Linked DNA regions of Homo sapiens. Changing the gene in region 1 together with any one later gene gives a genetic interaction. Each region holds a gene or a part of one and is shown in the gene's direction. Other genes may lie near its edges. The genes, in order: EIF4A3, EGFR, RIT1 and KRAS.

The links.
Region 2: changes in EIF4A3 (region 1) and EGFR together harm fitness more than expected from each alone (negative genetic interaction), as found in Homo sapiens cells (one large-scale study listed by BioGRID).
Region 3: changes in EIF4A3 (region 1) and RIT1 together harm fitness more than expected from each alone (negative genetic interaction), as found in Homo sapiens cells (one large-scale study listed by BioGRID).
Region 4: changes in EIF4A3 (region 1) and KRAS are lethal when combined (synthetic lethality), as found in Homo sapiens cells (3 studies listed by BioGRID, with this or other methods).

What each region holds. Positions count from the first base shown.
Region 1 is NC_000017.11:80,136,738-80,140,901, reverse strand, and holds part of EIF4A3 (eukaryotic initiation factor 4A-III), read left to right. Parts: intron 1-761; coding exon 762-894; intron 895-1,151; coding exon 1,152-1,232; intron 1,233-1,739; coding exon 1,740-1,881; intron 1,882-2,621; coding exon 2,622-2,760; intron 2,761-3,400; coding exon 3,401-3,516; intron 3,517-4,164. UniProt on the Homo sapiens protein: ATP-dependent RNA helicase. Involved in pre-mRNA splicing as component of the spliceosome. Core component of the splicing-dependent multiprotein exon junction complex (EJC) deposited at splice junctions on mRNAs.
Region 2 is NC_000007.14:55,022,017-55,025,516, forward strand, and holds part of EGFR (epidermal growth factor receptor isoform a precursor), read left to right. Parts: intron 1-3,500. UniProt on the Homo sapiens protein: Receptor tyrosine kinase binding ligands of the EGF family and activating several signaling cascades to convert extracellular cues into appropriate cellular responses.
Region 3 is NC_000001.11:155,897,308-155,901,349, reverse strand, and holds the end of RIT1 (GTP-binding protein Rit1), read left to right. Parts: intron 1-731; coding exon 732-962; 3' UTR 963-3,542; downstream 3,543-4,042.
Region 4 is NC_000012.12:25,209,088-25,213,251, reverse strand, and holds part of KRAS (GTPase KRas), read left to right. Parts: intron 1-1,073; coding exon of another isoform or gene 1,074-1,074; intron 1,075-3,340; coding exon 3,341-3,457; 3' UTR 3,458-4,164. UniProt on the Homo sapiens protein: Ras proteins bind GDP/GTP and possess intrinsic GTPase activity. Plays an important role in the regulation of cell proliferation.

The sequences.
Region 1 (4,164 bases):
TCACTTGAACCCGGGAGGCAGAGGTTGCAGTGAGCTGAGATTGTGCCGTTGTACTCTAGTCTGGGCAAGAAGAGTGAAACTCTGTCTCAAAAAAAAAATAAATTGTACCCATTTTATACTTAACGTAGTATAAAGATGTATGTTTAAAAAGATGTATATTAAGATGTTAATGCTGGTTTCTTCGGTGGATGGGATTATGAATTTTATATATTCTTTTCTGTTAATGATATAGCTTTTGTAATAAGAAACCAGCAGGCCGGGTGTGGTGGCTCACGCCTGTAATCCCAGCACTTTGAGAGGCTGAGGCAGGCCAATTACGAGGTCAGGAGATAACGACTCTCTGAATACACATATAGGGTGCACACAGCACGGTGTGCTAACACGGTGAAACCCCATCTCTACTAAAAATACAAAAACAAAATTAGCCTGGTGTGGTGGCGGGCGCCTGTAGTCCCAGCTACTCAGGAAGCTGAGGCGGGAGAATGGCGTGAACCCTGGAGGCGGAGCTTGCAGTGAGCTAAGATTGCGCTGCTGCCCCCCAGCATGGGCCACAGAGTGAGACTCCGTCTCAAAAAAAAAAAAAAAAAAGCAAAATTAACTTGTTTTTGTCAGAGAAAAGAGCAGGAGAATTTTGTGGTTTCGAGATAATAATGGCATAAATAATAATCGGTGATCATCTCGGAGGAGAAACAGTCTTTCTTTTTGGAAAACGTGGATGTTTCTCTCTCCCACCCTGGACGTGAACCTGTGCTTTGTTTCAGGGGCTGCTTGCTCTCGGTGACTACATGAATGTCCAGTGCCATGCCTGCATTGGAGGCACCAATGTTGGCGAGGACATCAGGAAGCTGGATTACGGACAGCATGTTGTCGCGGGCACTCCAGGGCGTGTTTTTGGTAAGCACTTTTGTCGCTAAAAATGGTGCTGCCGGTAGTATTTGTAAGAAGTGCTTAAATGGTACAGGACAGCTTTCGATTTGGTAGGCCGCACGGTAGACTTTTGCACCTGGGTCACTTGCAGGAGGTAGAGGGAAGGTCTCTGGAACCCTGAGACCAGTGGAATGATGAGCTCTTTCTTGGGAGCCTCAGGTGTGATTATTTCAAAATCTCATAGATGTGATTTGTCGTAAGTATTTCAAAATCTCATGTTATAGATATGATTCGTCGCAGAAGCCTAAGGACACGTGCTATCAAAATGTTGGTTTTGGATGAAGCTGATGAAATGTTGAATAAAGGTATGAGCAACAAAAGAATTACTCTTCTACTGACATAATTCTTAGTTCTTAAATTTTCACAGTGTAAAATTGAAACAGCCAGTGACTGTTCTGAATGTGAATAGTGTTTTCATCGTGGAAAAACAATTGTGCCTTGGCAATTATGAACAAAAAATTCCTACCTTGATTTTATTTATTTGTTCATTGTGGGTGACTCAGGCCAGCCTCTATTGCTTTTTATTTGGTATCTAGGACTCTCGGGGTGGGTTTCTTGATCCCTAGATCACTTCAGATTGAAGAAGCACCAAAGGGAAACCAGATTCCCTCAACCAGATAACACTCCGGTGGGCGGGGAGTAGGGACGGAGAGAACGCGTGGATGTGGCCTGGTGCTGTAAAAATGAGATTTCCTGTCAAACGTACCTTATCACCACTCTGCCTCTAACCCAGTGGGAACACTGGGCGTGCACCTTCCATTTCTGGGTGTGCCGCCCTAAACATCCCTCACCTGTCTTGCTCCCTGTCCCAGGTTTCAAAGAGCAGATTTACGATGTATACAGGTACCTGCCTCCAGCCACACAGGTGGTTCTCATCAGTGCCACGCTGCCACACGAGATTCTGGAGATGACCAACAAGTTCATGACCGACCCAATCCGCATCTTGGTGAAACGGTAGGAGCCCCTCTTGTCAAGTTTACTAAAACACTGGGCCGCATTTATAAAGGATTTTATGTCGTAATTTCAAAAACTTTTTATAGCCAGAGTCTGGCTGTGTTGCTGAAGCTCGTGTCAAAACCCGGACCTCAGGCTATCCTCTTGCCTGAGTGTAAAGGAATTGAAAGCATGCAAATTCTTTTAAAATTCCTGTTTTAAAAAACCAAATAGGCTGGGCAACATATAGAGACCGTATCTCTACCAATAATAAAAAATTAGCCAGGTAGGGCGGCACATGCCTATAGTCCCAGCTACTCAGGAGGCTGTGGTGGGAGGATCGCTTGAGGTCAGGAGGCTGAGGCTGCAGTGAGCTTTGATTGTGCCACTGTACTTCAGCCAGGGCAACAGAGCAAGACCCTGTCTCAAACAAAACAAAACAACCCATCTTTTATAATCCTCATTGTGGTTTGAACCAATAATTCTAAATTTAAAAATTAGGTGACTATTTATTTATCAGTGTTTCGTTTAGAATCGTATTCCATGTGGTGCACATTGTGAAATGTTAAGTAGGATACAGAATGGAGGCCTGTGTGACGGAAGTGGTGATAGGATGGAGGACAGGGCTGGGGCTGCTGGGTCTGCACCAGATATCACGGTGTGACCTTTTCCACCAGGGTCTCCCTGGATCCTGGCTTGGCCCACCCTCAAGTCCTAGAAGGAAGGATGAGTATGTAACAGGATTTGTCTTTGTCCTTCAGTGATGAATTGACTCTGGAAGGCATCAAGCAATTTTTCGTGGCAGTGGAGAGGGAAGAGTGGAAATTTGACACTCTGTGTGACCTCTACGACACACTGACCATCACTCAGGCGGTCATCTTCTGCAACACCAAAAGAAAGGTAAGAGGCACTGCACAGCATCCATGTGCTGAAGGGAAACTGCAGATTGAGTCTCTGAATGACATAAATCAAGATTTTTCAGTAAAGGGCCAGTTTGTCCATATTTTAAGCTTTCAGGGTATGTGTTCTCTTGTAAAAGCAGCTGTAGACAATATGCAAACGGTCAGACGTGGCTGTGACCATTAAAACTTCATTTACAGAACAGCGATATCAGCCACCCCTAAAGATTCAGATTTCGTTGGCTGAAGGTGGAACCCAGGCCTGAGTAGTTTTAGATCCCCAGGTGATGGTAATGTGGAGGCAGACCTGAGAACTGTCGGCCACTTTCCTGAGAAAGGAAAGGAGTTGGGCTACATTCTAACAAGATTGGAATTCAAATTTCAAATGAGAATGAGCACACCTGGCCCCCTCCCCCCATAGAGTCATTATATGGAGAAAATGAAGTAAGAGGGTTTTGTGAGTGCACCCCAACATTTTCTGGGAAAAAGTTTTTACATCCAGTTAGGATGATTCTGAGTTTTAAGAGCAGTTACCTTACGAATATTGATACTGGTTCTGCAAATGATGCGGTAAAGTCCCGAATGCACATCTCTGCTTTGGTATACTAGCTTGCAGTAGCATCTGTTGATTGGATTTGTAGGTGGACTGGCTGACGGAGAAAATGAGGGAAGCCAACTTCACTGTATCCTCAATGCATGGAGACATGCCCCAGAAAGAGCGGGAGTCCATCATGAAGGAGTTCCGGTCGGGCGCCAGGTGGGTCTGCTATGCTGTGGCTCTGCAGGTCAGGGTTTGCTAGACTGTGTCTAAGCACTTCATATGTACCGCCTAAGTGCAGGCCCCACACCCGGGGGGATGCCAAGCTTCTGCTCTGAAAGCTGAGGCCCTGGGTGAGCAGAAAACCTTCCAGTTAAGGAGGGGTCCGCTGTGCTCCTGTAATACTTAGGTTGAGGTGATAACTAGCCTTAACTAGCCAGGTTGGTCACCTTGGTTACAAGCGTGTGTCTTCTTTTCCAGTAAGTAGGGGGGTTTTCTGTTCATCGTTTCGATTAGTTTAATTCCACAGTGGTCAGAAAGCGTGGATTGGGTGGTTTCATTCATTTGAACTTGATTCAGACTTCCTTCTTTGCCCACCTTGTGGTCAGCTTAACATATGTGCTGTGTGTGTCTTTTTTTGTTTGTTTGTTTTTGAGACAGTCTCACTTCGTTACCCAGGCCGGAGTGCAGTGGCACAATCTTGGCTCACTGCAACCTCTGCCTCCTGATTTCAAGTGACTCCTGTGTCTCAGCCTCCCGAGTAGCTGGAATGGCTAATTTTTTTTTTTTTTTTTCATTTTTAGTAGAGATGGGGTTTCACCATGTTGGCCAGGCTGGTCTCGAACTCCTGACCTCAGGTGATCCATC
Region 2 (3,500 bases), on another chromosome or scaffold:
GCAAGGGGAAAGGGCCCAGGGAGCCGGCTCATGACGATGAGCCTGTCTGAAGCTTCAACGCGGGCTGTCCGGCAGTCTGCATTCCTGCCGAGTTCCTCAGCCCTCTGTTGGGTCACCTTCCATAGAGGCAGCTTAGTCCTCAGTTCAGTGAGCATGGAGTGGAGACTGCTTGAGGGGTGCTGAGCAAAGCCCTGCCTCTTACAGGATGAAGGTGCTCTCCAGAAGGGACACTGGAAAGTATTCCAAGGCGAGTCGAATTCCCAACTGAGGGAGCTTTGTGGAAATAAGCCCGCCCAGCCCCACTTCTGGAGACGTTCCCATTCAGTAGGTCCGAGCTGTCTTAAAGAGAAACCAAAGTGGGGATATTAATGGTATCCAAAGTGAGATCTACCCCACCCTCCCTCCTCAAAGGAGGTCAGATCAAGAAAGCCCAAGCCCGGCCTGGCAATTGGGACCTTTCTTCTCACTCCAGCCCAGGGTGAAGGTGGACAAGTCACTTTGACCCTTCAGGCTTCTGAGCTGTTGTTTCTGAATTCAGTGAATATTTACTGAGTGCATAGAATATGCTAGATATTCTGGGCTAAAGGTTGAAGGGGGGGTGAGTTTTAAGGGTTTCTGCTCTTGCTTCCAGATTGCTTTCAAATCTGGAAAGGACACCAGTGGTTTGTGTGTTAGACCCACACTGCCGTAGCACAGAATACAAGAAACTGGCTGAGAGCTCCAATAGGCTTTTAACAGTAATTTCTGGCTTCACGTATTTAGTTTCATAACTCATGATTTTTCAAAAACTTCTGGTTTGAAGACACCGATTGCCGAAAGTCCATTGTGCTGCATAATTACACTTGGTCCACGTGACAGCACTAACATGTTCTGAAATGTTTTTAGAAGTAGTCTCAGCAAAGATGAAGGATTCCTCCCTGTTTGAAAAGAAAATATTCTTTGTTTTTTCTTTGATCTAAGCTCTAAGACTAGCAGCTAGCATCTGAAACTTTTTTGACGAGAGTGACAAACCAACTCTAATATTAAAGGCAATTGATGATTATGGGCACTGAAGGGAAGGTAACCCCAGGCTGGTGCCCCGGAATAGGGATGGGTCACAATGTTGAGGACATTTCGCCTGTTGCAGAACCCACCTGCAACACAGTGTGGCCCTTGCCATGTGACTTGTGTGTGTGCCTGTGTGTCTGTGTGTGCGTGTTTTAATTTTGACTTCATAAGTACTCTAGTTATGAGCTTATTTAACATTGGGTTTTACTAATAGGGGTATGTGTTGAGAAAATTTCAAAGTTTTAGAATATGGTTCACCCACATGTTGCTTCCCTGTAAATATAATTTTTAAAACCAGATTCTGGGCCGGGCATGGTGGCTCACCTCTATAATCCCAAAACGTTGGGAGGCCGAGGCAGGCGAATCATGAAGCCAGGAGTTTGAGACCAGGCTGACCAACACGGTGAAACCCAGTCTCTACTAAAAATACAAAAAAAATTAGCTGGGCGTGGTGGCAGGTGCCTGTAATCCCAGCTACTCAGGAGGCTGAGGCAGGAGAATTGCTTGAACCCAGGAGGCAGAGGTTGCAGTGAGCCAAGATCGCACCATTGCACTCCAGCCCGCGCGACAGTGTGAGACTCCATCTCAAAAAAAAAAAAAAAAAAACAGATTCTGTTCCTCAGATCCATTCCATTTTTGTTTTCCTTTATCACTTATGGACATTTGAAATTATGGTAATAAACATTGTTAGTCTCAGTTAATTATTACTGGTTTATTCTTGAACCACTAATCCATAGAGAATAGAGTGTAAATCTTAACTTGTTCCTGTAGGCCATCCCCATTAAACATCATAGTGTTTTCTCATTCGTTCTTTTTCGTTTTCCTCCTACAGGAATGAATTTTCTAAGAAAATTCCAGCAGTTGGCTCTTTGGACGACATCTCTAGATTGTCCTCCATTGGGCCCATAGGCACAAGCTGGCCAGTTTGAATTTGGGCAAGAATCCAGGCATTGGAACTTATTCAAATAACTAGTTTGCCTGTAATTTTCACTTTTTCAGAGTCATCTGATAAAGCTTTCTTGCTACACATTTAGATAGATACACTCAATCCAGTTGTCTAGAAAGTTCCCTGAGCCAGCTGGGAGCAGGAGGGGTAGTTGGGGCCAGGAATATTGGGGGTGTGTTTACTGAGCCCCTAGAAAGTAAGTGCTAGATTTGACATTTCAATCCCTGAAGGCCCTGAAGTTCAGTATCAAATGACTGGTCCTGTGGACTGAGCATCTGTGAATTGCATATGCTTAGAGTAAATTTTACTCCTACCAGTTTCAGCAGCTTGCTTTAGCAAGCAGTATGGAAACACTAACATGGGGGAGTAGAATTTCTCTCTCTGATCCAAGTTTTATCTCATTCTGGTGGGTTTTCAAGGAGAGACTCGGAGTCCAAGTGTCCTTTCTGAATATATCTGGAACTTCTCATTAACAAAAGACTCAAGTTATAATTTAGGGGACAAGGCACCCAATGAGAATGCCTTGCAGGCAGCCCTAAGTACACCTGCAATTACACCATTACTAGCGCGGCAGCACACATGGCCCTGACTTAGTTTAAATAATTACGTAAGTCAACCATGATTGTTTGCCCTTTGCATAGAAGGGCAAGTATTGGTACCTGTTACAACTTAGGCTTTTTTTTCTTTATGTTTGAGCCATGATGAGTGATTTACACTGTTGCATCCATATGTTGAGATGTAAGAATAAATTAGACTTGGTAATTGCCCTTAAGTGTCTGGAAGTCAACTGGGGAAAGAGAGCTAGAGATAATAAGTGTGAAACAATGTCACAGAATCAATGACGGAACTCTTCCCAGGACAAAGGATGACTTTTGAGTTCAGTCTTTGCCTTTAATTCTACATGGGGAGGAGAGCACGTTTAGCCACAAATGGAAGGGATTACTCATTTGAGCTATTTGGTTATATGATTATTTCCCCAGAGAATAGGATGTGCAGGGCATTACACAAGCAGTGCCAATAGCAGCAAAGTTCTTGAGAGTGCTAGTAATTCAAATGGCAGGAAGAGAAGGAATAAATGGTAAGGCTACCTACAGTTCACAGAGAGCTCCATCCTCACTGTGGCTTTGGATTTTGTCCTGTGTGAAAGAGAAGTGACTGTGAACTGACATGCTGTGTTTGGTGTTTTAGAAAGATGGCTGCAGCAGCGGTTTGGGGAATGGACTGCAGGAGTGGCATTGGAAACAGGAAGGTTCATGACTATTGCCAGAGACAGAGGATGAAGCAGGAGCAAGGAAGATTCAGGACAGGGGACTCCGGGGCTGATCAGGAGGCAGAACTGGTTGATAAGTATATGTAGCAGCATAAGAAAGAAAGAATCCCAGATTGACACCCAGGCTTCTCACTTGGAAGCCTGGATAGATACTGAATGCAATCACAAAGGCTGGGAAGTCAATGGGACTGCAGGGAAGGGAAGGGAAGGGAGGAGAAGAGGAAGGGCAGGAGGGTC
Region 3 (4,042 bases), on another chromosome or scaffold:
TTTTAAAAATTTTGTAAAAGTAGGGTCTCACCATATTGCCCAGCTTGGTCTCAAGTTCCTGGGCTCAAGCAATCCTCCTACCTTAGCCTCCCAAAGTTCTGGAATTACAGGTGTGAGCCACCAAGCCCAGCCTATTTATCTTTCTTAAAATAAAAAGTATGGGGAAAATTAAGATTGTGTATTTGATATCTAAAACTATTCCCTGTTCCAAAAAGTATCTTAAAAATAGACTAGAGACCGGGCACAGTGGCCGACGCCTGTAATCCCAGTACTTTGGGAGGCCGAGGTGGGCAGATCACCTGAGGTCAGGAGTTTACAACCAGCCTGACCAACATGGAGAAACCCCGTCTCTACTAAAAATACAAAATTAGCCAGGTGTGGTGGCGCATGCCTGTAATCTCAGCTACTCAGGAGGCTGAGGCAGGAGAATCACTTGAACCCGGGAGGCCGAGGTTGTGAGCCACAATCATGCCATTGCACTCCAATCTGGGCAACAAGAACGCAACTCTGTCTCAAAAAAAAAAGTAGACTAGAAATAGAATCATATCATTTGAAGGCAGAATAAGAAACCTTAGAAGTAATCTAGCCTAAAATTACAAAAATTAGTGCTGTATGCTTGAACACCTCCAGAATTGAGAAGCTTTCTTTGTGTTAAGGTGGTGGTGCATTCAGGTTTTTGGACAATTTAATTGTTTTTCACTGTTATCTTTTCTCACATTTTGCCCTTAAAGGTCACCAAGGAAGAAGGATTGGCCTTGGCCCGAGAATTCAGCTGTCCCTTTTTTGAGACATCTGCTGCATACCGCTACTATATTGATGATGTTTTCCATGCCCTTGTACGGGAGATACGTAGGAAAGAAAAGGAGGCAGTACTGGCCATGGAGAAAAAATCTAAGCCCAAAAACAGTGTATGGAAGAGGCTAAAATCACCATTCCGGAAGAAGAAAGATTCAGTAACTTGAAGAGAAGATGTGAAGTGTTTATCTGTGAACTGCAGTGCTGTATCAAAGCAGTCCAGTAACCTGCAGTACTGAGTATGGTGCTTGCTCTTTCACTTAACTGATAAGAGGGACATGCCTACTAGGAGTTTTTAATGATGTGGTATTTAAAGTATTGTCTCTTAGTTAAGTATGATTTATTAACCCAGTGGAGCACTGTCTGCTTTTAAATTGTCACATTAGAATTTGTTCTACCAATGTTTTGGGTTCTGTTGCGCTATTAATTAATGTAAATTTGTTTATACCCAGGAGAATATGTATACCATGTGTGTTTGACTAAGTTCACAAGGGAAGTTTTTGGCTCTGCACTCCACATTATCCTTTAATTTCAATTTCCTGGGACTATCCCAGAGAAAGACCTCAGTCTCTTCTATTCACACTATGCTTCCTAGAGACAGAACAAAAATCATGTAGGGAAATTGGGGCTAATGAGATCAGTGCCAAATTTCAGCAGATACCTGTGAGGCTGACACCTGTTGCAGACTATGGAGTGGTGAGATTTGGGAAAGTTGGGCTATATGTTTGCAGGGACTTAAAAAGGTAGGTTCAGAACAGTATTCTCAGTACAAGCTTCGCTTTTCTAAGAAGTACACATTTGGCCCAAATTCACCGGGATAAGTGAGAACAGCCAGAAGCATAAAATGTGATGAAGGTTTCTCCTGGGAACCTTATTTTACTCTTCATTTCAGGGTTTTCTTTTTTTTTTTACCTTCAAAGGTAGACATTTTGGGAATCATAACTGTATTACTAAACGTGTTTAATCAAAATTCATAGTTGGATCAGCCATTGCCTTGTACAGGTTTATTTTTTCCCCACAGACGCACACACCAACACATTTATATTCATTGCTTCCTCCCACTTTGTGCTCTGTAAAAGAGCTACAGCTGGCAAGATGTTTTTTCGGCCCTTCATCACTGATTGCATTTTCCATACAGAAGAGACATCAGGGGTGTGGGTAAAATTGTGTGTGTGCCTCCTTGACGTGGACAATCACTAGACTCAGTGCTCTGAGAAAATCTGCTATTTCTGTTGAATGGGTCAGTCTTAAAGCTTTAAAATTCACATAGGTGGAGTTTCCCATCTGAAGATTTCTTTACAAGGACTTTGCTAAGTTCATCTCAGGGTTATCTGAGCCTTGACCAAGTTTATCCTAAGGGAATACCACTTTGCTCCCTGTGCATAGTTTAGGAACTGTAGTCCTAGGAGGAAACAGCTTTAAATATTGGTAGTGAGTTGTCTAAGATCAGGACTGTTTTGATATCTGACCTTGTTATATGCGGAGAGTAAATGCAAAAATGCTAAGAGTAATGCATCATGTATTGAATATTAAGTGTCACTGAAGCAATGTTTGTGTTGACTAGAAACGTAAGATGACTTGTGTAGCACCTCTTTATAAGCACACAGCTCATCTTAATATTTTCCATTTTTATTAGAGGAAGTAGGACAGAGTTGTGTTTTTCTTTATAAACAAATGATAAACTAGCTTTTTTAAAAAGTGACTGTTAGAACTTTTTTAGCTCTGAGTAGTGGTCCCTTTTTAAACTCCTGGAAACATTTTTGTTACCAAATAAATCATGTTTTATGGTACTCAGCCATCCAAAAGTGAAAGACCTAGCATTTGATTCTGTGCAGGACACAAATCTCACAGGAACTATAGCACTTTGGAAAAGCATCAAAGTAGAAAAGAAATACAGTGCAATTCTATTATGAGAATGTTTTACATTTAAACTGGTTTAGCACCTTTTAAGTTTAAAGCCCATAGCTTCTTATTACTAGTGACCTAGGGAATTGTTATTAACATTAAGAGATATATATATATATATATATATATATTTTTTTTTTTTTTTTTTTTTTTTTTTAAATAGAGATGAGGTTTCACTATGTTGCCCAGGCTGATCTCGAACTCCTAGGCTCAAGCAATCCTCCCAATATGCTGGGATTACAGGCATGAGCCACCACCTGGCCCAAGCAAGAAATTGACACTATATAGTTATTTAAGGTAGTCAGGCAGTAGAAACATTGCCAGAAGGATAGAAAGGAATTTGGATTATATATAAGGAAAATAACAAATCGGTGTTTTTAAGACTATCACTGTCATATATTAGATCCTTGTATTAGTCCATCCATTAATATTAGTTCTATTCGTGGTGCTAGGTAGCTTGACAGGTATGATATGCATAAGTCATAGCTCTATTCTTAGTGTCATAAAGTGTAGCTAATTTATAAGCTCTAAGTAATCAGCTTTATCTAATTTGAGGGCATTAAAATTACTGCCTAGAACTTTGAGAAGAGAAAAATTCAGGGATAAGTTGAAAGGCACTGGAACTGTTCATGTCCATACCAGACCGGTAAATTATAAGATCCAGATGTTAGTGTCTAGAATTAGCTGTTTAGAATTCAGAGGGGACATATGTTTTAACTTTGTCATATATTAGCAAGAATTGGTCTACTGTGATGTTTGGGGAGGAGGAGGGGGGGATAATTTTTTTAATGCACTTGTATGTGAAGACAGTTTGTATGACATAATACAAAACTTTTAAACAACTTGGGCTTTCCTTTGCTTCCCTATCAGTGGGTAGAGTTTTTGGAATCATTGCAAAAGAGTTGTTTTCAGAAAAACATAACCATGAGATGTGATATTCTGGAAAATATGAATTCAAAAAATTTGAGTGCCCACCATGAACAAGACACCCATGTCAAGTGCTAGGGAGCATGCCATGGAATCCCCCTTCATTTGAAGAGATTACCTCTTGGGAGGAGACAGGAAAAACACATATGGAAAATGACAGCACATTTGCTACCTGATCAAGGGTTACTTAAAGTTGTTATAAGTAAATACACTAAATGAAAAGTGAAAGAATGATTTTTTTTTTTTTTTTTTTTTTGAGACAGAATCTCGCTCTGTCGCCCAGGCTGGAGTACAGTGGCGCGATTTCGGCTCACGGCAAGCTCCGCCTCCTGGGTTCACGCCATTCTCCTGCCTCAACCTCCCAAGTAGCTGGGACTACAGGCGCCCGCCACCACACCTGGCTAATTTTTTGTAT
Region 4 (4,164 bases), on another chromosome or scaffold:
TACTATTCTAAAATTTCTAATTTGTGCAAATTATGTTTTATACAGTGACTGTAGGTGAATGTCACAATTGTTTGATGTGACGAATCCTTGTTTTTCAGTACACGTGGAAGTAATTCATATAAAAGAGAAGTATACTTGGTAATTAAAAATTTAAAATTAAATACAATTTAAAAAAAAATTTATTTGACAAGCTGGCTGTGGTGTGTGTGCCTGTAGTATCAGCTGCTTGGGAGCCTGAGGCAGGAGGATTGCCTGACCCCAGGAGTTTGAGGTTGAAGGGAGCTATGATGGTGCCATGGCACTGTAGCCTAGGCAACAGAAAGAGACTCCATCTCTTAAAAAAAGTAAAAATAAAAAAATTTTGGCACAGGGACAGTGGCTCACACTTATAATGCCAGAACTTTAGGAGTCCACAGCGCGAGGACTGCTTGAGGCCAGGAGTTTAAGACCAGACTGGGCAACGTAATGAGACCCCACCTTTAGGAAATAAATACATAAATAAAAATTTGACAATGATAAACATATATAAATTAGCTTTTCTTAGTCCTGAAAAAGATAATGTTATGTGTATGTGTGAGAATGATTAGTTCTCATATGAGAAAAAAAGAATTCATTGCTCTGTGTAGGTTGTGACATTTCCTTCACGATTGAAATTAATTAATTTTTTTTTATTACTTATTTATTTTTAAAATAGAGACAGGTTCTTGCTGTGTTGCCCAGGCTGGTCTCAAACTCCTGGCCTCAAGCAGTTCTCCTGCCTCAGCCTCCCAAATTGCTGTGACTGTAGGTGTGAGCCACTGCACTGGGCCAAAATTACTTAATTTTAACAAGATGATGTAGAGAGGAGAGTTCATTGCAACATAAGCCTAGAATCTTTGTCAGAATCTTAGGAAGTAATGTTTTCAAATTCTGTGTTTTCACCATAAAATGTGTCTTCTCTGTGTCCATCACATGGTTTTTCATTGTTTTCTGCTTTACCATTTTAGTACCATTGGCATTTTTCTTCATTGTAAAAGTAGTAGAAATGGAGTAGATTACATAAGGATGTGATCAGAGGGAATTTATTCATTCAGGGTAAGGGAGTTAGATCCTCTTTTAAGATTCTATCACATTCTAAGGGTTTATGATTCTAAACTGTCAAGTAAATTGTCAAGTGCTGGCAAGCTACAGAATAATTTTTATTGTATCATTGGAAATTTTCCCCTCTATATGTGTTAAAGAGTTTAGCCTGAAGGGATACATACACATACATATATGTAATCAAACCTTGATGGTATTGTATTGCTGATAAATTATTTCTTACCACTTTTCCTTTCTCCTGTGGGAGAAACAAAAGCATATGTTTGTGTAGTATCAGTAATGATATTAGAGAGTGGGAAACATCAGTGAGTGCAGTTTGGGGACTTTATTGGAGACTTTCACTAGTGCTCAAATAAATAATGCTGGTTTTTATCCTACTGTTTGCTTAATGTGGACTAGCCTCTTATTCCCATTCTATGTTTACCTCTCTTAAAATATTGGTCACGCTTTCTTGAATTATAGATCTATTAGGAAAATTCATGAACTGTAGCTAATTTTCATTGTTCATGCTCCAGATTTATTTTGAAATATCGTTAATCTTAGTAGTACAGTAAAGGAGAAATACCACTTAACATTTTTTGTTTTTTTTTCTTTGAGACAGAGTCATGCTCTGTCACCCAGTCTGGAGTGCAGTGGTGCTATCTCGGCTCACTGCAATGCACTTCGCCTCTCCGGGTTCAGCAATTCTCCTGCCTCAGCCTCCTGAGTAGCTGGGATTACAGGCACCTGCTACCACACCCAGCTAATTTTTGTATTTTTAGTAGAGACAGGGTTTCACCATGTTGGCCAGGCTGGTCTGAAACTCCTCACCTCAAGTGATCCACCCGTCTTGGCCTCCCAAAGTGCTGGGATTACAGGCTTGAGCCACCGCACCCCGCCCACTTAACATTTTAAATTAATTTCAAGATAATATCACTTGAATATTTTTACACATATAATTTTTTTAATACATTTATTTACACAGTTTATAATATCCTACAAAGTGATTACAATGAGTAAAAACCCAGTTTTCATTGTTCCTAAAGTGGCTTGATTTATACAACTTAATGTGTTGGGTATTTGTTTCTAAGACTCCCTCTGCTGTCTAGGTTTGGAAGTATTGTGAGGTTAACAGATTTTCTTTTTATAGTTACTACTCAGTTGAACAGGCTTTAAAATACAGAGAGAATCATATTTTTTCTTCATTTTTTGCTTTTATTTATATTTTTCTTTTAATTGGAGACATGACAAGAATTGACTTGTGTATGGATCTTGCATAATTTAAGTACTGCAGGTTTAAAATCTACTACCAGTTTGAGAGTGCCATTTTTCACACTGTAGATTATTAGGTTGAAAAGTATTATGGCTTAAAATCGCTTTTAGCCATTAAATTTAAATAACCTTGCTTTAATCATAAATAGATGGTGGTCACAATGACTAACTGTTAAACTCTTTGAAGACAGGATATTTGGCTTTATATGGCAAGCTTTTGAATACAACAGAAATTAAAACTTTATGGGATAGAAAGAATCTCCTCCAAATTGGTAAACTATAAGACCTTTCAAATGATTTAGCTAATTTCTCCACAAATCTGAGGTATTAGTGTTTTTTTTAAAGTGGTATTCTCCTGTGTTGGGGTCACTTTAAACCTTTTTCTTAATGATAAATATATGAATTGAAACTAATCCCTTAATATATATCATTTGAAAACTGAAATAATATGTTTAGATACTGTTTACTTGTTGATAAATTATTGGAATAGGATGTTCGAATACTGTTTACTTCTTGGTAAATTTTTAAATCCAATGGATTTTACGTAAGTATAGAACTGGAGCTCAAATACTGTTACTGTGTGTGAAGATATATGAACATAGTTTACAGTTGCATGGCTTATATCTAAAGTCCAGAAACATAAGGACAATTAAGTGTACACACACACACATGCATTTGGATTTTGATGACTTAGGTTTGCCAATGTGGAAAAAATAGTAGCAAATTAAGTTCTCCTGTGAAAAAGTCGTTACCTTATTTAAAATTCTGTGCCATTGGTTATCCTTGTCTTTTGTGAAAATTAGTGTTCCTGTTTATAATATTGACAAAACACCTATGCGGATGACATTTAAGAATTCTAAAAGTCCTAATATATGTAATATATATTCAGTTGCCTGAAGAGAAACATAAAGAATCCTTTCTTAATATTTTTTCCATTAATGAAATTTGTTACCTGTACACATGAAGCCATCGTATATATTCACATTTTAATACTTTTTATGTATTTCAGGGTGTTGATGATGCCTTCTATACATTAGTTCGAGAAATTCGAAAACATAAAGAAAAGATGAGCAAAGATGGTAAAAAGAAGAAAAAGAAGTCAAAGACAAAGTGTGTAATTATGTAAATACAATTTGTACTTTTTTCTTAAGGCATACTAGTACAAGTGGTAATTTTTGTACATTACACTAAATTATTAGCATTTGTTTTAGCATTACCTAATTTTTTTCCTGCTCCATGCAGACTGTTAGCTTTTACCTTAAATGCTTATTTTAAAATGACAGTGGAAGTTTTTTTTTCCTCTAAGTGCCAGTATTCCCAGAGTTTTGGTTTTTGAACTAGCAATGCCTGTGAAAAAGAAACTGAATACCTAAGATTTCTGTCTTGGGGCTTTTGGTGCATGCAGTTGATTACTTCTTATTTTTCTTACCAATTGTGAATGTTGGTGTGAAACAAATTAATGAAGCTTTTGAATCATCCCTATTCTGTGTTTTATCTAGTCACATAAATGGATTAATTACTAATTTCAGTTGAGACCTTCTAATTGGTTTTTACTGAAACATTGAGGGAACACAAATTTATGGGCTTCCTGATGATGATTCTTCTAGGCATCATGTCCTATAGTTTGTCATCCCTGATGAATGTAAAGTTACACTGTTCACAAAGGTTTTGTCTCCTTTCCACTGCTATTAGTCATGGTCACTCTCCCCAAAATATTATATTTTTTCTATAAAAAGAAAAAAATGGAAAAAAATTACAAGGCAATGGAAACTATTATAAGGCCATTTCCTTTTCACATTAGATAAATTACTATAAAGACTCCTAATAGCTTTT